5 separate regions of the Homo sapiens genome follow, and all the other regions are reported to be linked to region 1. Evidence: microRNA targets listed by miRTarBase, many of them from high-throughput screens and not tested one by one. Region 1 holds a microRNA gene; each other region holds the end of a gene's coding sequence.
The links. Region 1 holds the annotated microRNA hsa-miR-559 (UAAAGUAAAUAUGCACCAAAA, at 1,782-1,802, opposite strand). A microRNA usually pairs through its seed, bases 2 to 8, with sites in the 3' UTR of a target mRNA and lowers its output. Matches are read on the target gene's strand: a 7mer-m8 pairs with bases 2 to 8, a 7mer-A1 pairs with bases 2 to 7 and ends in A, and an 8mer does both.

Region 1 (4,205 bases):
TTTCATCCTTTCACCCCCGCCCAGATTATTTTGAAGCAAACCTCATATTTCAGCAGAAAATACCTCACTATAATATATTAAAGTTTCAACAAAATATTTTAATCATATCAGTTACAGTCTTTTTTAACAGACTTTTATTTGTGTAAATTATAAATATCATAGGGGAGCATATATGCACAAACTAAGTAACCACCAAGTAGATAATAAATAAGAATTATAAGAAAGAGGGGAGATATTTTAGGCAGAACAATTTGATAAGAGGCATAAATATACAAACAAGCAAGATGCATGTGAGTGACAGGGAGGACAAAATTAACGGCAGCAGCGAACCATTTGGTTGATCTGTAAGTGGATAAAAAGGTGATGAAATATATTTAATTCATTGAGGCATGATAGACTACATTCCTGAACACAGGAATAAAGAAGATGATACTCACATCTTTTTCAAAATAATAAGCCACATCAGCTATGTCCACATCATTCTGAGTTTTTTGAGAAGAATTTTGAACCAGATCAATAGTGATAACATTATTCTCATACTGGGGAAAAAAATTGAATAATACAAATTAATACTAATATAATCAAAATCATTTGAAAATAACATTAATTGAGAATCAGAATATTCAGTGTTTGATTTTCTATAATCTACATGCATCACTGTTCCTTTCCATTAGTGGATAACTAAGTTTATCACTAATCAAGAAATCTTTGGGAGGTCTCTAAATCTATCAAAGGGAAATAAGACAGCCATGCAACCAAACATAATTACAATGTACAATTTTTCCTAAGAGGATTTTCTTATATTGAAAAGATTTTTAAATAAGATATGAAAGTATTTTATTTGGATTAGAACTACTTTAAAACTAAATTACTAAAGAAATGAAAGGTAAGGCCGGGTGCAGTGGCTCATGCCTGTAATCCCAGCACTTTGGGAGGCTGAGGTGGGCGGATCACCTGAGGTCCGGAGTTCAAGACCAGCCTGACCAACATGGAGAAACCCCATCTCTACTAAAAATACAAAATTAGCCAGGCGTGGTGACACATTGCCTGTAATCCCAGCTACCAGGGAAGCTGAGGCAGGAGAATCGCTTGAACCTGGGAGGCAAAAGTCGTGGTGAGCCGAGATGGCGCCATTGCACTCCAGCCTGGGCAACAAGAGCGAAACTCCGTCTCAAAAAAAAAAAAAAAAAAAGAAAAGAAAAAGAAATGCAAGGTAAAACGCAGCATGCATTTTCCATGTTGTTTTTTTGTTTTGTTTTTGAGACGGAGTCTTGCTGTGTCGCCCAGGCTGGAGTGCAGTGGCACAATCTCAGCTGACTGCAAGCTCCGCCTCTCAGGTTCACGCCATACTCCTGCCTCAAGCCTCCCGAGTAGCTGGGACTACAGGTGCCCACCACCACATTCGGCTATTTTGTATGTTTTTAGTAGAGACAGGGTTTCACTGTGTTAGCCACGATGGTCTCGATCTCCTGATCTTGTGATCCACCTGCCTCGGCCTCCCAAAGTGCTGGGATTACAGGCGTGAGCCACCGTGCCCGGCCATCATTTTGTTTTTAAAGAGTAAAAAAAGTACATTCTTTCTAAAGACTCTTGAATAAATTCATACTACCTTTAAAGAGTTCCGTCACACTATTCAAGCTTCTTTTTATTTTTTAAACCAGAGTTTAAAGAGTTAAGTAAGGGCTAACTAGTTAAGGACTAGTTCCTTAAAGCAGAGAAGATGGGAGCTCCAGTAACATCCTAAAGTAAATATGCACCAAAACTGTATTTACCAAAAGTAATTTTGGTGCATATTTACTTTAAGATGTTACTGGAGCTCATCCACAGGGACAGGTTCTCCAGGATAAGAAAACTCAAATGTTTTAGGGATACTAAGAGATACTACGTTTTCTTTAGGAGTAAAACTAGGCTTTTCAAAGGCTATGGAAGGAAAACAACGATAACCAAAAACAATGGGCCGGGCGTGGTGGCTCACACCTGTAATCCCAACACTTTGAGAGGCTGAGGCAGACAGATCACTTGAGGCCAGGAGTTCGAGACCAGCCTGGCCAACATAGCAAAACCCCGCCGACACTAAAAATACAAAAATTAGCTGGGCATGGTGACATGTGCCTGTAGTCCCAGCTCCTCGGGAGGCTGAGGCATGAGAATTGCTTGAACCTTGGAAGCAGAGGTTACATTGAGCCGAGATCTTGCCATGACACTCCAGCCTGGGGAAGAGAGCAATAGTCTGTCTTAAAGAAACAAACAAACAAAAAAAAACAGTAACAGGAAATTCACATTAAGTACCCAGATCCGAAACTGTTGCTCCAGTAAGTGCATTTAACCACCACTTAAATCACTGGCTGTCCTTATACTCAAAACATACTGTCTCACCAACTGTCTGCTAAAGCTCACTTATTAAAAAATCATACCAAAATACTCGTGATAAATTTTGGATCCAGTTGATAACGCGTTGTGATCTCCTTCTGAAGTGCACTGTAAAGAATTTAAAATCTGTATTAAAAAAAAATGTTTGTACCACACAACAGTAAGAAGCACTACTCTTTAAGCAGACAGCTCAGGGTCTAAAACTGTCATTAAAGTTAAAATTTTTCTGCCATTTTGCAACTATCATAATAATAATTGATTCAGGCTGGAATCATCCATTGATATTCAAACTGCTGGGTACCAGTTTAATTAGAAAAAGAACATTTACTTAGTATCCAAGTATCTGCCCATAGATTATTTATGGATTACAAAGGGAGAATGGTAACTTCACAGTGGAAAAACCTGGTGGATACCACTTTAACCAAAGTTTACTTTACTAGTAAAGGGACAAGCTGACATCATGCAACTCCTAATGTGAAGTATTATAAAGGACACAAGATCGCTTAAGTAGTTTTCCTGTCAAAAATGCATAACCTGCTTTTAGTTAAGAGGGAACATCAAGGCTCGGGTGAGGTGGCTCATGCCTGTAATCCCAGCACTTTGGGATGCTGAGGTGGGCAGATCACCTGAGGTTGGGAGTTCGAGACCAGCCTGACCAACGTGGAGAAACCCCGTGTCTACTAAAAATACAAAAAAAATTAGCCAGGCATGGTGGCGCACGCCTGTAATCCCAGCTACTCAGGAGGCTGAGGCAGGAGAATCGCTTGAATCCGGGAAGCAGAGGTTGCGGTGAGCCGTGATTGCACCATTGCACTCCAGCCTGGGCAACAAAAGGGAAAACTCCAACTCAAAAAAAAAAAAAAAAAAGGAGGAAATATCAGACAAATCAAAATTTGAGGGACATTATATATAATGACTTGCCCATGCTCTTTAAAAATAGCAAGTTCATGGAAGACAAAGAAAGGCCAAGAAACTGTTCGATATTAAGAGACTAAAGAGTCATGACAACTAAATGTGATACATGGATCTTGGACTGGGTCCTGAATCAGAGGGGAAAAATTACTACAAAGGACAATATTGGGAAAATGGGCACAACGTGATATAACGTTAAATTTCCTGGCCGGGCGCGGAAGCTCACACCTGTAATTGCAGCACTTTGGGAGGCAGAGGCGGGAGGATCACAAGTTCAGGAGTTCGAGACCAGCCTGGCCAATATGGTGAAACCCTGTTTCTACTAAAACTACAAAAATTAGCAGGGCGTAGTGGCAGGCACCTGTAGTCCCAGCTACTTGGAAGGCTGAGGCAGGAGAATCGCTTGAAACCGGCAGGCGCAGGTTGCAGTGAGCTGAGATCACGCCACTGCACGCCAGCCTGGGTGACAGAGCGAGACTCCGTCTAAAAAAAAAAAAAAAAATTTTTCCTAAATTTGATCGTTGTATAGTGGTTTATATAAAAGAATGCCTTTTGTTCTTAGGAAAACATACACTGAAGTACTTAGGGGTAAAGGGGCCTGATGTCTACAACTTGCTCTCATGTGCTTCTGGGAAAAATATTTATACATGCATAGATACACTGATGTAAAGCACACACACATATTCATCCACACATACACATATAAAAAGCAAATGTGCCAAAATGTTAATTGGTGAATCTGAGTGAAGTGTATTCCCAGAATCTCTGTGCTATTCTTGCAACTCTATTTCAAGTAACTTTATTTTTCAGAAATATAAAAAAGCATTTAGACTTGCTTTTTCTAATGGTGTAGGATGGAAGATTTGAGCCACCAACTGTGCAAGAATATGATGCATTTAATTGCACTTACGTCCGCAAACTTT
Region 2 (4,000 bases), not on the chromosome of region 1:
TATAATATATACCATTTAGTATACATGTTGGGCTGTCTGAATGAGAACATACCCATCAGTGTGCACATGTGCTTACAAACATGTTCATTCATTTAGTGAAATTAAGAGTGGAAGCAGGCTGTTTTCAGAAAAAATATTTGAGGGCTGAGTTCCCTCTTTCATTCATCCCATGAGGGTATTACTAGGGGGTTTAATATATTTGGGTTAATGATGAGGGGGAAAAAATAGCATCCTTTTGGGGAAATAGAACCAGACACAATTTAAAGTGGGACCCAAATAGAAACATAATTCTTTTATGAAACAAATGTTTTATTTTCTGTTTGTCACACGGATGCCATCTAAATTTTAAAAGAAATCTAGGCTTCCTCTTATTCTTTATGTTTTTTTTAAAAGCAAGAAGTCAGAGACTTTGTACATCATGATTAACTTCTACATTTGTTTGAGCTATGTGTCACAAGTAATTAAGTTATAAATATTCTGAAGATTAATTGGTGCACACTCTAAGTGCTTTTTAAATTTTACACAGCTTACCTTTCTTTCTGAAGAATGTCCTCACAAAGATAGATTATATCAATTTCTCCACTGATGATGTATTCCAGCAATAAACATAGTCCTAGAATTGTAGAATGTGCACTGCTGCACTCTGTCCTAACAGACAGTAGACAAGGTTTATAATTTTTTTCTATGGGACACTAAAAATACCCTAGGATTTCCTTTAACTTTTTGCACTGACAGGTCTAAAGCAAAGCCACAGAAGCTGCTCTTGCTCAGTAAGTATTGTTAATGCTGCAGTGCATATTAAAATTTCAGAAAACCCAATTATGTACTATCTAGGTGTGGATAGCTCTCATTGTTAGTATCCTAAATCATCTAAAGGCTTGTTTTCTTTCTTTTTTTTTTTTTTACAGACCTAACTACCATAATGAATGCTGCATATTAAGAGAAACCACAAGAAGGTTATATGTTTGGTTGTCTAATATTCTTGGATTTGATATGAACCAACACATAGTCCTTGTTGTCATTGACAGAACCCCAGTTTGTATGTACATTATTCATATTCCTCTCTGTTGTGTTTCGGGGGGAAAAGACATTTTAGCCTTTTTTAAAAGTTACTGATTTAATTTCATGTTATTTGGTTGCATGAAGTTGCCCTTAACCACTAAGGATTATCAAGATTTTTGCGCAGACTTATACATGTCTAGGATCCTTTTATCAAGGCAGTTATGATCATCGTTTTCCTGCCTTGACCCCACCATCATCAAACACTCAGTTAAATATAAATTAACATTTTTTAGATGACCACTCAACATAATGCTTAAGAATGGAATTTCCTCTCTGTGACAGAACCCAGGAATTAATTCCTAAATACATAACGTTGGTATATTGAAGACGAAATTAAAATTGTCCTTCAGTTTTGAGGCCATGTGTAAAGTTTAACCATATTGTAAAATATCTATTCCGTATTAGAAATAGCTAGTTGACAGCTTATACTTCTCAAAATTCATATTGTTATGTACACAAACTAAGTTTCTATATGTGAAGTTAGTGAGTCTTTTTGTGTTACTCCAAAATAAAGGCAATGATTTATTTTTTTCCCAGTGCCAATACAATTTTGAGCTAAGCACTCAAGGTGGATACTTTACATTTTAAAGCTGGAATCAGCAACAGCCCTATGGGAAACCAGACAAAGCATTGACTTTTAAATGTAGACTTTTAAAATAAACTGTTTTCTTTTGGAACTACAATTAGAATAGTTAATATTCATCCTTAAACCATTATTATGTGTACATTATTGTTGCTATTGTGATAATAGAGAATTTTATTTATTTTTATGCCAGCTTATATTGTGAGAACACATTTAGTCAGTTTGGGTTTTATCAATCCTGTTAATGCTTGTCCTTGGAACATCTTTCGCGTATTCACGGTTTGTAGTTGAAAAGTTTACTGTAAAAAAATCAAAAACAAAAAAATGTATTGTTTTTACAGAATAAATTTATTGGAATGTGTACTGGGAGTAAGATTTGAGGTTGTAAGCAAACTAAGTTAGTGTAATTTGGCTTCATATATGTAACGTGAGGTATTAATGTAATTCATATATTAAAGCAAAAATTGTTCACAGCAAGCTGACAATAGAATCAAGTGCAGGTGAGGGTTTTTCTTTTTCTTTCTTTTTTTTTTTTTAAACACTCTCTGGGTTTTAGATTATTTGAAAACACTGTAGGGGATGATGGGGAGATGACTACATGATTTGCTTACACTTACATATTTACCAGCCCAGTGGACCCTAGATTTTGTAATTTGATATTATCCATGCATTGATTTGTATCCCATTTTCTTTTGGTTTTCTTGATGAGAGCTAATAAAAACATGAGAAAATGTGAGCAGACCTAAAAGCCTAGGGCCGTTAATAATGATGATGGTGATGATGGCAGCTAAGGGTATGAAAGCACCAGTCCATTTATCATTCCAGGGCACAGTGAGGAGGTGGCTGTTTGTATTTTTGGTGTGTTTCTTTCATTTAGTGAATACTGATTTTCTCTAGTATACTCAACATACAATCCCAAACATGAAAAGTTCATAAAAAGATAGTAGGGATGTCGATCTAATACTTCTTCCTTAAAAGGTCCTTTTTAATTTTGAATATTTGAATGTATTTTTTAATTAATGAAATTTAATTCATCAAAAGACCTCTTCATTGCTCACACTGAAACATAAGGGGAATGTAGATGGCATTTTGAATTGGAATATACAACTCACAAATTTTCTTTAAAAGCGTTTTATGTGTATATATGAAATGTTTCAAATTTAATAAGATTTGTCTTTATAAGAGGCCAAAAATAATTTTATTAAAAATATACACAGAAATACAATAGAAATATTTCCAGCCACCAATAAAACAAATGTTCATTAAGGATAGAGATAAAGTTACTGATCCCTATTTAGCTGTTTAAATTCACACAAAAAAATTTAGTAAAAGTAATTTTCTTGAAACAGCAGCAAATAATAAACTTTCCTTGGGAAAACATTTTTCAAACAACATTTAAAAATATTCTGATGATTTGCCTTTTATATTGAGTTTAATAATGAAGCATATTCATCTTATTTGCAAAAGTTACTCCTCCAGTCTGCATTCACTGTTTTGAATTTTTTAATATGCACAGGCCATATTCTCTTTTGAATAGTTTCATTTCATGCTCACTACTGTTGGCACTAAATTGTAATTTTTTACACTTATAATTATTTTATATGTCAAACAATATTGAGATGGATGATCAAGTTTATTCACAAATGATTTTGAATATATTTCTTTAAACAAACTGTTTCTCAAGAATTTCCATTTTCCTTCAAAAAAAATTTACACAATACCATATAGCTCACACATACAGTGCAGAGCAAGAATGTACATATTCTTAAGTACTCACGTATGAGAAGAGAGTGAAATGGGACAAAATATCAGTACCAGTATAACAAAAGTTAGTAATTTAGAAAGGAGGAACATGAAGTAATATTTTTATTCCACTTTTTCTTCTGCCTTTGTTTTTATGAAGAACTCTGGTTTGTAGATACAACGATAGGCCAAGAGCTGAGGAAGAACTCCATATGCTATGTTTAATGCTAAAAAAAGGATTTTTGCTTCTTCAGGGACTCTGTAGACATAAGCAGTTCTAGCATGAAGAGATGCACCAATGTGAGAAAACTGAGCCTGTTGCATTTAAAAAAAAAAAATTGAGTAAGCATGAAACGTGTTCAGTTGGATGCATGATGAGTTCTGAATGGTTCATTCAGGCTACGTTTCTGTGCCCTCAAAACCAGTCTCACCTGCAGGCAAAATACCTTCAAACAATCCAGAGTCTTTAATGTCAGAGTCTTTCATTAAATTTAGTCCTTGATTAAATTTAGGGCCATTCTTGATATGACTGTTCAAATAAAGTAGATATTATTTAGTGTAGTTTTATCATGCCAGTTGTGTTTTTTAACCATCAAGTGCCCCTTACCGAAC
Region 3 (4,205 bases), not on the chromosome of region 1:
GTCACCAAAGTAAATGTGGGGCCAAAGAAGACTCCTAGGTTTCTGGCTTGGCTTACTGGATGAACAGTGATAGTGCCATTCACAGTGAAAAGGAAGAATGGAAGTAAACCCTGTTTAGGGAACACTGTGATTCCAGACTTCAAAAGTAGGGCTGGGCACATTGGCTCACGCCTGTAATCCCAGCACTTTGGGAGGCCAAGATGGGAAGATCGCTTGAGGCCAGGAATTGGAGACCAGCCTAGGCAACATGGTGAAAACCCATCTCTACAAAAAACTAAAAAATTTGCCAAGTAGGCCGGGCGCGGTGGCTCAGGCCTGTAATCCCGGCACTTTGGGAGGCCGAGGCGGGCGGGTCACGAGGTCAGGAGATCGAGACCATCCTGACTAACATGGTGAAACCTCGTCTCTACTAAAAAATACAAAAAATTAGCCGGGCGTGGTGGCGGGTGCCTGTAGTCCCGGCTACACGGGAGGCTGAGGCAGGAGAATGGGGTGAACCCAGGAGGTGGAGCTTGCAGTGAGCCAAGATCGTGCCACTGCACTCCAGCCTGGGTGACAGAGTGAGACTCTGTCTCAAAAAAAAAAAAAAAAGAAAAAAGAAATTAGCCAAGTATGGTGGTGCACACCTGTAGACTCAACTACTTGGGAGGCTAGCCAGGGGTATGGTTTGAGCCCGGGAGGTTGAGGCTGCAGTGAGCCAAGATCACACCACCGCACTGCAGCCTGGGTGACAGAGCAAGACCTTGTCTCAAAAAAAAAAAAAAAGTGGAATTTGAAGTTACAGTGAACCCCTTGTGTGTCATACAAGAACCTTGTCTATTTTTCCAAACCCATCTTCTGTCTCTTCCTCACTGGTACCTTATGGTCTAGTCATTCATGCCACACCTATTTCATCCATCCCCTCCTTTGAGTAGGTCCTCTGTAGGGCTTCTCTGATTTAGTTACTAATTCTCTGTGGTCCCACAGTTCTCCGAACATATCTATAAAGCATTGAAACTTTCTCATTCTCTAGACGGTGAGCTCCTTCATCTCTGAACCCCCCTCCCCCACCCTAAAGATCAGCAGAATACCAGGCACAGAGCATATGTCCAATAGATGATGGTTAAAGAAGTAATAAAACAATTAAACTTGCGTTGTGGAGATTTCATATACTGAGGAGTGTAATGTGGTGGAACTTTCCCGACTCTCCAAATCCCCTCGGACTTGCAGAGAAAAACGGAGGTGAGAGACCCTACCAATCAACTTGACAAGAACGACTGACTACCTATAACCCTAACTTTCGCCAGGATCAAAAGACGAAAGCCCGCAACCACCCCCGGGTCCCTCACTAGCCACCGCTTACGGTTGGCTGTAGTAACGTGGCAGAGGCAGCAGCGGAACCCCCCACGCGGCAGCGATTCGACATCCGAATCCACCGCCGCCATAGCGACTCTCCTGTACCGACAAAAACACAAGCACCTCTGCCACCACCGGAACCCACTTCGCCAAAGCTCAACGCGCTCGGAAGCAACTTCCGCCGATCCGATAGGAAGTGACATAAAGTCGTTCAATTGCGCGGACACACTCCTCCGGAAACCAAGCTCCTTCGACTCTGGGTTCCGTTTCTAGCCGCTGTCCAGTCCCCGCCCGTTTCAGGAAAAGCGGCGCGTTACGATGCTTATCTGCATGCGGTAAGCCGATTGGTGTGCTTTAAGCTGTTCAGACGTTGATTGGCCCAAAGCATCGTGAATATTCATGACAGCAGCCACAAAGGCCGGCGCCGGGTGGCATCTTGCGGCAGCTCCTTCACCCCGCAGTAGACACCCGTGCGTCTGTACCCTCGACCCTTATTTACCCGACGAATAAAGGCGGAGGATCGGCGGCTTCCAATTCTTTGCCCCACGGAGCCCAGGGCTGTCCCTGGACTTCCAACCTTTTCAGGGCTGTTACTCCCTCCCTCCGCCCCCTGTCCTCCCGCAAAACGGGTGTTCTGCGACGGCTTCTAGCCCTGGTTGGGGAGCTCTGCCACCACCGGGCACCTTCCGGACTCCACGAGGTCCTGGAGCCAGGCCCATTCCTTCCGCAGTAGTGGGCTGCGTGGTGTACGCCGGAGGCGCCAGAGCTACTGGCGCACCTCAGAGCAGTGCGACAAGACAAAACCGAGTGCCAGTAACTGAGTTTAGACACTGGAGGGGGCGAATGCTGTCAACCCCCTCCTGGTATAATTGTCAGTTCATCCCAACGCCGCCGAGGTGTAGGCTCAGGACAGGGAGGGACTACGGGGAGCTGGGGATGCCCTAGGGACAGGGACCATAACGAGGTGGAGAGAACTATCAGATGGGCTCAGCAGCTTGTGCTGTGGTTATCAGCCCACAGCTTTGAATGGCGCAAAGAGCAGTGGACCTAAGGCAGACACCAAGGTCTTTGACCTTGAACAAGTCACAACTGTTGAGGCCGTTTCCCATCTCTAAAGGAAGTGCCCAAGGAGCACACAGCAGGCTGAACTTCTTGTTCTCTATCCTAAGGTGTTCCTTCTAATGGGCCCAGCTCAGGCATCTAATCTCAGTGTCCCAAACCTTTAAGGCAGGAAACAGTGCTACAGTGGATCGGGATATCATCGAGACTGGCCTTGAGGATCCTGAAGCAGCAGGCTGTACACATACACCCAGAGGTGCTAGGGTGGTTCAGTGGTAGAATTCTCGTCTGCCAAATACACCACACAGCTAGGTGAGGGGATCCTCCTATAACCCCACCACCACCCCCAAGGGGGTATACATGTTACCCTGGCTGCTAGCAACTTCCAGAATTCCTTAAACAAAAGGGAGAGGGGAGTAAGAGGTGGGAAACAGAGGAAGAAACACCCCCATTCCCCTTTCCTATGGAGGCCACCAGTCATCCAGAAAGCTCATCTCAACTCCTTTGAATGAATCTGGGCCAAGATGGTTCTTGAGCTCCAGCACCACTGGGAGCTGGGGAGCAGTTTGGGTCCCACAAGAAGCCTAGCTGGAGCAAGCCGCCTGGGTCCAGGCTGCCTATCTCATAAAGCTGTTCCCAGGGCAAGAACCATCTGTACCTCCTTTGTTGTCCTTTGTCCTTTATTTTCCCTCTCAAAGACACCCCCAACACACACACAACACACACCCATGGCAAAGAACAGCTGAGCCAGGAGAAGCTGAAGAAAACAGCTTTTTATTTGTTACTATAAGAACCAATTACAGAATCCGAGGTTAAAAAAACGGACAAAAGATCTTTATTTCTGAGAACTGGCGTACAAAAGGCAGAGGGGGAGGGGAGGGAAGGAAAGAGCGAGCGTGGCCTGGGGTTGATGCCAGCTTAGGGGCCTCAAACTCCAATTAGGAAAGTCCGGACACCGGACAGAAAGAGAAACCCCCAATTAGGAAAAAAAAAAAAAAAAAAAAAAAAAAAGACATGGCAGTGCACGCCCCCCTCCCCCAACCAGGTACCACCACCTGTTATCTGTTTACTCTTCCCCTCCCCATCCCCTTTCACAAAGGGAGGCAAAATTTTTAAAAAATTAAAAAACCCTCCCCCCAAAACTGTCCAAGACATCTGTGGGTCCTACCCCCCAAAACAGGCTAGGTTCCCACATGGGCCAAGTTCCTGCAGTCTGTCCTCCATCGGCAAGCATGGAGGCATGAGACAAGTCTCGAGGTGGTAACACCAGAGGGCGCCCAACCCCTCCAGGGACACACACTCACTTGCTCTCTTCCTTAATTCACTCCTCACTCCCTTCGACACGAAAGGGAAGGGAGGTTTGGGTGCCCTGGGCATCCACCCTCTACCTCTCAGCCCACCTCCCTTCCCCACAGGTGCTCAGTCCTCCAGGACAATAGGCTCATTGGTGCTGGCAGGATGTGAGGGTGCAGGTAGAGGGACAGGGGGCCGCACTGCAATCAGCGTTGGCTTCACCTTCAGGGGCAAGTTGGGTCGGCGAGCAGCTCGCCGCATTTCCAGATGGGTCAGAGCCTTCCGTAGGGCCCTGGCCAGAAAGAGCAAGTGGGAAACAGAAAAGGCTTAGAGAACATTAAGACCTCCAGGTGAAGCCCCACACTGCAATTATGCCTTCTGGCCCATTCTTTTCTGGCATCCCCACCCTGCATCCACAACTTTCCTGGAGCTCTTGCTCTGATACTCCTACTCCCCACACTCACCAGCCTGGACTGTCCCTCTCAGCCCCTCCCATGGTAGACGCCTTACCTGGTATC
Region 4 (4,205 bases), not on the chromosome of region 1:
AAGAGTGAAACTCCGTCTCAAAAAAAAAAAAAAAAAAAAAAAAAAAAGAATAATTCGGCATCCCTTTAAGAACAAACAAGATGTTTACTGACCATGATGGGTGGTTTACAGCAGTGTTTCTCAAAGTATGATTCCCCAACCATTTGCATCACAATATCCAAAATATTGCTAAGTGCAAACAATTTATTGGTATGCAAATGATTTTAACTCCAGAGTCCCAACCCCTAACTACTGAATCAGAAACTGAACACCAGGGCTATAGAGTCTACTACTAGCTTCTGAAAGTTCCTTTCAGTTATGCAGGCCACTATTTTATAAAAGTTGCCATTTAAATGGATATTTTACTTTCCTAGAAATAACTAGAGTAGCACAAATACTGTTTATTAAAATGTCAAGGTTTCATGTTTACATTTTCTTATATCAAGTACAATGGTATATATACTTTTTTTTGAGATAATTATTCTAGATTCCAGGCTTTCTTCTAGATGTAAGTTCCTAAAGCTTATAGTTTACATTGATATCTAGACATATATCTTAAACAGTCTCCAAATTTTCTTTAATTAATCAAAGTATGTTAATGTCACTTGGAATTCTACATGGAAAAGCCAACAAAATAACTAAAACTTGACTAATGAAGATCAGCGTCACTAATAAAAGTCTGCAACTGTAGTATTAGGTTGGTGCAAAAGTAATTGCGGTTTTTGTCATCACTTTCAATGGCAAAAGCCCCAATTACTTTTGCAGCAACTATATAGTTTTATAAATGATCAGCATTTAATCCAACTTAGCATGTCAACTGGAAATTTTTCAATATTTTAAAGCTGACCTTCTGCAAAAAATGTTTCAAAACAGGCTTGACTGACACCACCTCCCTGCTCTGCTACCCGACCAAATAAATTGAATTTGTTTTAAAAGAGTTCCCTTCATCTTTACTCAAGATTCCCTGAGCTACTTCTAGCCTAGCTGACCTTTTCAAAACACCCTCAATAAAATTATCCTCTTGTCAGCCAGTTATTTTCTTCCTCATATTTACATCCAGATCTGCCTTTGGAGAGACATTTCACCTCGAATGTTTGTACTCAATGGACCCTGCCTTCCATCAAGTTGGCAAGGGCACAAAAAAATAGTGATTGTAATATAAGCAAGTGACAGGAACAAAATGAAAACTTAATGACATTATTACCTACATCTGATGGGCCTTTTAGCCCACTATACCTATTTTAAATATTCTGGAAATTATTTTTGTATGAAACAGGTATTATTTATCAACAAACTTTTGGAAAATAAACTCCTCAAACCTTATGCTGTTATGTTAATGTAATGGGCAAGTCTACTTGCCTAGGTGAGAAGAAAAAAAAAACAACTACAACTTGATTCCATTTGTTTTATCCAGAAGAAAAACATTCAAAGTAAAATGTGAACATTTAATTACCTTTAAATCATATATGAAGTAATTTACATGCTATACACTTCCAAACACACTGAACATAAATTCAACTTTATAAGACATATACACAGTCTGCTTTTGCCAACATATACCCTGTAGGTCACTTAAGATGTAACTGATTTCTCAGTCCACCTGTGAGCATATAAACACACAAATATATGTCTGAAGTTGAAGATTAAGATAATAAACCAGAGTTGAATACAAGAAGTCAGCCACAGAAGATTCTAAAACCACAATCAGTGACTGGAACACCAAGGCACAAAAACTTCCCTTTGTAGTCACAGAGATTAAGTTTCCATTCCCAGTGCTTAAATATGGAAGCAGGATTGGTTAATCACATACTATATTTTATAGTGCATTTCTGTTGCTGTTTAAAAAGGAATATTTTTTAAATTACATAATGTATTACAGAAAAGCATTGGAAAAATAAACAGGATAAGATAAGCTCTCATACAATAAAGTTTTTTTTGGTCTGAAAAAGATGTTTATATTCAAAACTAATATAATAGAGGTGTAACAGAAAGTAGCATGAGGAACACTATGCAAATTGCCTAATACTCGAATTGTACTTCATGCCACCATGTTATTTAAATTTTCAATTTTAAAGCCAGTTGGGTGATATTGCTAATTCCAAGTGATAGTTTTGGGGTTTTTATGTTTTGTTTCTTGTTTTTTGGTAATTTAAAGATATGTACTAGTACACAGAATAAACAGTAAATATAACATGGCAAAATGAAATCTTTCCCAGAGTTTATGTTGCTTTTGTTAAACAGTAACTTTGTACTAGAATCTCTTTTTTTTTCTATATTTAACAAGAAGAAAAATAATGCTCCACATAGAAATGACTTCAAAATTCATGCAACCATGCACAACCTAAACTATCTGTACTTCCCTTTTTTATTTACCCAAAAGTTTTTGAGTAAACTGAAAGTTAGATACTCCAGGAACAGCAACTCATTGAGCAATAAGGCAGTTTAAAAATATACATATACATGTACTATTCATTGTTTCTCAGAACAGTTTTAGAGCTTTAGCTCTTTAAACTTACACAGTTGTGAAAGAAATAAAGCCAACCACAAAATAAGAATCAATGGAATGCAGTAATCCATATATAAAAGACAGTCAAATGTGCTTATACGTATTCAAGAAATCAATATTCTAAGCTGTAAATAATAAATTATCAAATGTAGCACTAAACAAATTATGATCAGAATAAACCTTCAGTTTCATTAATTTTGAATACAAAAGTGGGGCAGGCTAAACGTGAACAGTGTACTTCTACAAGTGTTTATATAGAAGTATTGTAGCATGCACCCCCAGCAGTAATGAGAGCACAATTCTTTACAAACAAAACAAGGCTGACCAGAAGAAAAACAAAACAAAAAATCTTGTTGTAGGCTGTAAAACTTAAGGGTAAAGAATCCACTGGGAATTTAAGGCTTTCTTAGAAATATTTTTCATGGCACTTTAACATTAAATATCACTAAAAGGCAAAATATGTAAATATTCATAGTTACAAAGCTACATAATTGAAAGTACATGCCATATCATTTATTAAGAAACTATGTTGTCAAATTTTGTTTTCTTGAAGTTAAATTGTACTTAAGGAAGGTTATTTATGTTTGGCTGAATTAACATAAATCATAAACGTCAATTCACTAGTGTACAGTGCAAATTGTGTTTTGAGTAAATACATCAAATACCACTCATTTCTTACAGAACTGAATGTCATTCCTTGCTGGAAATGCAATTAAAATGACTTATTTCTCTCACAAGGGTAGTTATTATCCTTCCTTCAACTATTAGCCTACTGTTAAACCCTAAAATTGTTATTAGACAAATTCCTTTTGGTTATGCTTACAGACCATCCTCACAATAATCCTTTTCTTGTACTGCAATCATTGCAGAAAAAACTCTATGAGTCTAACAAGTCATTCTTGCCACACCATACTCTAAGCTGACCACAGCAGGTTCTGATTTAGAAAACTCTTCTGCATATTCACTATAACGATTATCTGCCGGGCTGCTGCCCTCTATAGTTCGAAGAGCATCATTTACGGGTAGCAGAGTCTGCTCTTTAAAACACAGGGAAGTTTTGAGGTTAGGTGATTCAGGATGAACTGAATGTAACAATTCCTTGGTGAGGATGCCATCTGTTTGCTTATTTTTGCGTTGTTTAATTTTCTAGAACAAACACAAATTTGAAAAAATTACTAATTGCATAAGCCACAATATGTTACATGAAAAAAGAAAACATGCTTTTGCAAAATATGTTCTCTGTATGTATAATGCAAAACTAAATCTCAAAAAAGTAGAAACATTTAATGCATATGACATGGTTGAAAATCCTAATTGTGTACAATTTTTTGCTGTGGAAAATTGTTAGTTTTTATATTTATTAAACAAACAATCCAGCAAGACTTGACTGCAGGCGATCACTAGGCTTCCACACTTAAAATGGACATATATTACCTAGAAAGCATAACAGGTAAACATTTATAATAAAAGAAATGTGTATGAAACATTCACCCTGAAAACACAACAAACAAACTTGTGTAGCTAAAGGGCTCACTGACTATATAGAGTTTTTCTTACATGGTTTTCCTACAGTGGTTTGTTAGGTAAAAATAACAGACTTTAAACACAACAGAACTTTACTTTTTTAACAGAAGATTTTTAAAGTGTCCTGTGGCAGAGTATCATGCTCTCCAAATTCTTGGACTGTCCCGATAATCTTGTATTACCTATTATCCTGGAC
Region 5 (4,000 bases), not on the chromosome of region 1:
TGTAATTGCACTATTTATAATCTTACCACTTGAGTTTTACTTAAGGCAATCATTGTCAATTAAAAACAAGTAGAGAAATATGTCTAATTGGGAACATGTTAAGGATGATACCAGACTTAATTAACAAGCATCACAGAAGTAATTAGACTCATTACTGAACAGTTCATTGTCTCCTGTTACATTATTAAGCCTTTTAGCAGCTTTGTGTAACATTTCATTGGATGTTTCTAATGCAGAAAATAATAGGGATTGCAAAGAGTACAATATGAAGGAAGTAAGGATTTAATCCTTCTTTTCTTGTCTTTCAGATCAAATGGGGAGCCTGCGGCCTTGTGTTGGCAGGCAATGCAGTCATTTTCCTTACAATTCAAGGGTTTTTCCTTATATTTGGAAGAGGAGATGATTTTAGCTGGGAGCAGTGGTAGCACTTTATTCTGATTACAGTGCATTGAATTTCTTAGAACTCATACTATCTGTATACATGTGCACATGCGGCATTTTACTATGAAATTTAATATGCTGGGTTTTTTAATACCTTTATATATCATGTTCACTTTAAGAAAGACTTCATAAGTAGGAGATGAGTTTTATTCTCAGCAAATAGACCTGTCAAATTTAGATTATGTTACTCAAATTATGTTACTTGTTTGGCTGTTCATGTAGTCACGGTGCTCTCAGAAAATATATTAACGCAGTCTTGTAGGCAGCTGCCACCTTATGCAGTGCATCGAAACCTTTTGCTTGGGGATGTGCTTGGAGAGGCAGATAACGCTGAAGCAGGCCTCTCATGACCCAGGAAGGCCGGGGTGGATCCCTCTTTGTGTTGTAGTCCATGCTATTAAAAGTGTGGCCCACAGACCAAGAGCCTCAACATTTCCTAGAGCCTTATTAGAAATGCAGAATCTGAAGCCCCACTCTGGACCCAGGACATTTTGATGAGATCCAAAGGAGTTGTATGCACATGAAAGTTTGAGAAGCATCATCATAGAGAAGTAAACATCACACCCAACTTCCTTATCTTTCCAGTGGCTAAACCACTTAACCTCTCTGGGTGTTACCTGCTCATTTGTTTAAAAAAAAAAAAAAAGTCTCACCTGCTTTCATGCTGAGGACAAGTTCAGATGTTCAAGCCTATAATATTTAGGCAGTTCCTCAAATTTATGAAAAGTGTTCTCAGAATTGGGAGACAGTCAAAGGGTACAAAGCCTCAGTTAGGAGGAATAAGTGTGATTTTTTTTTAAAGATCACTTGCACAGCATGCTAAATATAGGAATAATTGAATGTATATTTCAATATTGCTAAGAGAGTAAATTTCTAATGTTCTCATAAAAAAGTTAAATATTTGAGATCATATGTTAATTAGTGTAATCATTCCACCTTATATTCAAAAATCATAAAACCGTATTGTACCCTATAAAAATATACAATAATTTGTCAATATATAATCAAAATAAAAAACAAAACATACTCTCTCCCCCAAAAAAACATCTCAGTGGGGAACAGATGTATCTTTTCATCTGAAAGACAATGCTGGGGGAAGAGCTCCACTGAGATGCGGGCAGGGAGGCTGGGCTCGAGCCAGCCCCTGCGTTAGCAGGAGGGGGAGAACAGATAGGTAACTCTTTTACATTTCCTTTATGATCTGGCACTTCTCCCCAGCTCCTTCCCTCTGCCCCCCACCCCTACTCCTCAACAGTTCTGGTTTGCCCTGACTTCTCTACGGCTCTGGCTTCTTCCCGAAGAGATATAGGAGCCATGTAAGCACGCAGTGGGTGAACTGCTTAATTTCACTACGTGTTGATGTACTTGTCTTCCGTCCTGTAGGTCTTTTCTATATAACTTTATGCCACCCTTAAATGAATCATTGGGTATACCTGTCATGTTGGATCCTGTAATCACAGTTTTCCCTGCTCACCTTTTTGTCTAAGATCTATTGAGAAAGGGAAATATGGGAAGGAGAACCATTTGATCAGAATACAACCAATAGTCTTTAAGCATTGTTAAAGTATGAAACTGAAATACATTCAAAACACTTAATCCTTGAGGCTTGTGATCTGAGTAATTAGCAGGTATGATGCTGGGACTGGAAAATAGAAAGTAATAACTAAAGGGTTAATGTGCAACGTTATTTTTTGGCCTTGTTCATGATTTTATGTTTTCAGTGTCCTGTGTACATATAGAATTGTTAAAGTTGTCATTTCCAATATTTATATTAGAAAAATTATTTAGATACTTTATAATTTTAACCGGCATTTTTAATAATGACACTTGCATTTATTGTATTGTAATAAATTTCACTTTTAACTTTAAAAGTTTAACTTTAAAATTTTTTTGTGATGTTGCCTTGCCTGAAAAGATAACAAAAATGAGAGAATTTCTTGATGTTTTAAAATGGGCAGTTTTGAGCAATAATCTGTCCTAACAGAACAGTAGCAATAAGTTTTAGGATACCATCTTGAATGTCTAGTTGGTGTGCAATAGCTTTTCTTTCTAAGATGGCAATAATGATTCATTTCTACTACATTTTGCAAAAGTGTTTTTGTTGCTTATACACATTTTCAATAACCAAGGTAGCCTTCATATGTAGCCTTAAAGCATTACCTCTTGATTGTATCTTTAGATTGATATAAAGTACTTGCATATAGAGTATTTGAAGTGATAGATTATTAGATTTGCTCTATGTCTGAAAAGAGAGCTATTCTGCAGTGCCTAAATATCATTTAAACAGTAAATATTAATAGGAAATATTGCTATATCTGAATATATAATACAAAAGTTTGATCATGGTGACACAAATGTTGGACATTTTTTTCCTTATAAAAGGCTCTTTTTTTATATATTGTACAATATATTTGGAGATTCAGAGCATAGTGACTATAGTCGAAAACTGAGATTGCACTTCCAAAATTGGCCACAAGTAAATAATCTTATGAAGGGATTCTTTATCATGTTTCAAACAAGTGGGTTACAAGCAGACTTTGAGACACTTTTCCACAGAAACAATACTATGAATTGGTGATTGAGTTCCCAGGCCAAGCCTCCCTCAACAGGTTCAACTCTAATATACCTAACCTGTGATACTGAAGGTGCCTGCCTGAGTTTTGGGTCTCTGAGACAGGGTAGTGTGAGTAGTTTGGAGGAAGGACAGTGCAACTTTCCACCCCTTTTCCTAAGAACAAGGTCTTTCTCCTTTTAATTTTTCCACTCATTTTCACCTCCTAATGCCCTTGAGATCCAGGTACACTCCTGGGAGTTTTGTTCACCTCTCCCAACTGAGAACCTTCCCACTGGGCTCCATCCTCCCTCCTGAGGTTCTTCATATTCCAGAGTCACCCACCCTTCTCCTCCCATTAGTCAGTTCTCTAAGTACAGCTGATGTCATGTGGTGCTGAGAAGAAAGCAGATCACACTTCATCACAGAAAGAATGCCTTGTGATTATCTTCTCCACATCTGAAATTCCTTTTGACACCTGCATTGGGCCGACTGCCATTCCCATGACTGCTGCACCTGCGTTTTTAGAGAATGCCTCATAACCCACTGATTCTCATTCACAGAGAATGGGAGAACGGAATGAAGAAAGATTCCAGCAGCTTATAGAAGGATAGCAATATTTTGGGACAGGGAAAATCCTGTCATACCTCATCTCTTCCTCAGGAGGAGTTCTGAGCTGGTCCTGCTTTTCATAGTTGTTTCTTTTCTTCCACTTAAGAACTCATAGATTTTTCTTACTGTCCTAAGGAAGTCCTTACCTCTGAGGTATCTCCTCAATGAATACTGTTTTCAAGGCTGAAATAGTTCATTATGTTAATAACCTTCTTTATGTTCTCAGGGAAATGCTTAGGTGGTGTCACAAAATGTGCCTTTTCTTTTCTTTTTTTTTTTTTTTTTTTGAGGCAGAGTCTCGCTCTGTTGCCCAGGCTGGAGTGCAGTGGTGCGATCTTGGCTCACTGCAAGCTCCGCCTCCCGGGTTCACGCCATTCTCCTGCCTCAGCCTCCCAA

Region 2: miRTarBase lists TM6SF1 as a target of hsa-miR-559. Seed matches in the 3' UTR shown: 7mer-m8 at 2,974-2,980.
Region 3: the mRNA of MTA2 is a reported target of hsa-miR-559. The part of its 3' UTR that is shown has no 7-base or 8-base seed match.
Region 4: the mRNA of MTMR6 is a reported target of hsa-miR-559. Seed matches in the 3' UTR shown: 7mer-m8 at 1,407-1,413 and 7mer-m8 at 686-692.
Region 5: the mRNA of LEPROT is a reported target of hsa-miR-559. Seed matches in the 3' UTR shown: 7mer-A1 at 2,231-2,237.

What each region holds. Positions count from the first base shown.
Region 1 is chr2:47,375,287-47,379,491 of GRCh38, reverse strand. MIR559 (microRNA 559) reads right to left here and starts at 1,817; the gene lies at 1,722-1,817. It overlaps EPCAM (epithelial cell adhesion molecule), which reads right to left. Exons shown (of 9, transcript NM_002354.3): 4 at 4,193-4,205; 5 at 2,415-2,478; 6 at 438-539.
Region 2 is chr15:83,136,184-83,140,183 of GRCh38, reverse strand. It overlaps TM6SF1 (transmembrane 6 superfamily member 1), which reads right to left. Exons shown (of 10, transcript NM_023003.5): 10 at 2,776-3,703. The coding sequence ends at 3,512. It overlaps HDGFL3 (HDGF like 3), which reads left to right. Exons shown (of 6, transcript NM_016073.4): 6 at 909-4,000. The coding sequence ends at 914. Among named protein-coding and RNA genes, the nearest start is that of TM6SF1, 31 kb to the right of the region's middle.
Region 3 is chr11:62,590,062-62,594,266 of GRCh38, forward strand. MTA2 (metastasis associated 1 family member 2) reads right to left here. Exons shown (of 18, transcript NM_004739.4): 17 at 4,198-4,205; 18 at 3,153-3,979. The coding sequence ends at 3,814. It overlaps TUT1 (terminal uridylyl transferase 1, U6 snRNA-specific), which reads right to left and starts at 1,462. Exons shown (of 9, transcript NM_022830.3): 1 at 1,343-1,462. The coding sequence starts at 1,424. RefSeq lists enhancers at 1,272-1,967, 1,384-1,613.
Region 4 is chr13:25,245,862-25,250,066 of GRCh38, forward strand. It overlaps MTMR6 (myotubularin related protein 6), which reads right to left. Exons shown (of 14, transcript NM_004685.5): 14 at 361-3,631. The coding sequence ends at 3,371. Among named protein-coding and RNA genes, the nearest start is that of MTMR6, 40 kb to the right of the region's middle.
Region 5 is chr1:65,431,495-65,435,494 of GRCh38, forward strand. It overlaps LEPROT (leptin receptor overlapping transcript), which reads left to right. Exons shown (of 4, transcript NM_017526.5): 4 at 309-4,000. The coding sequence ends at 425. All of the region lies in intron 2 of LEPR (leptin receptor), which reads left to right. Among named protein-coding and RNA genes, the nearest start is that of LEPROT, 13 kb to the left of the region's middle.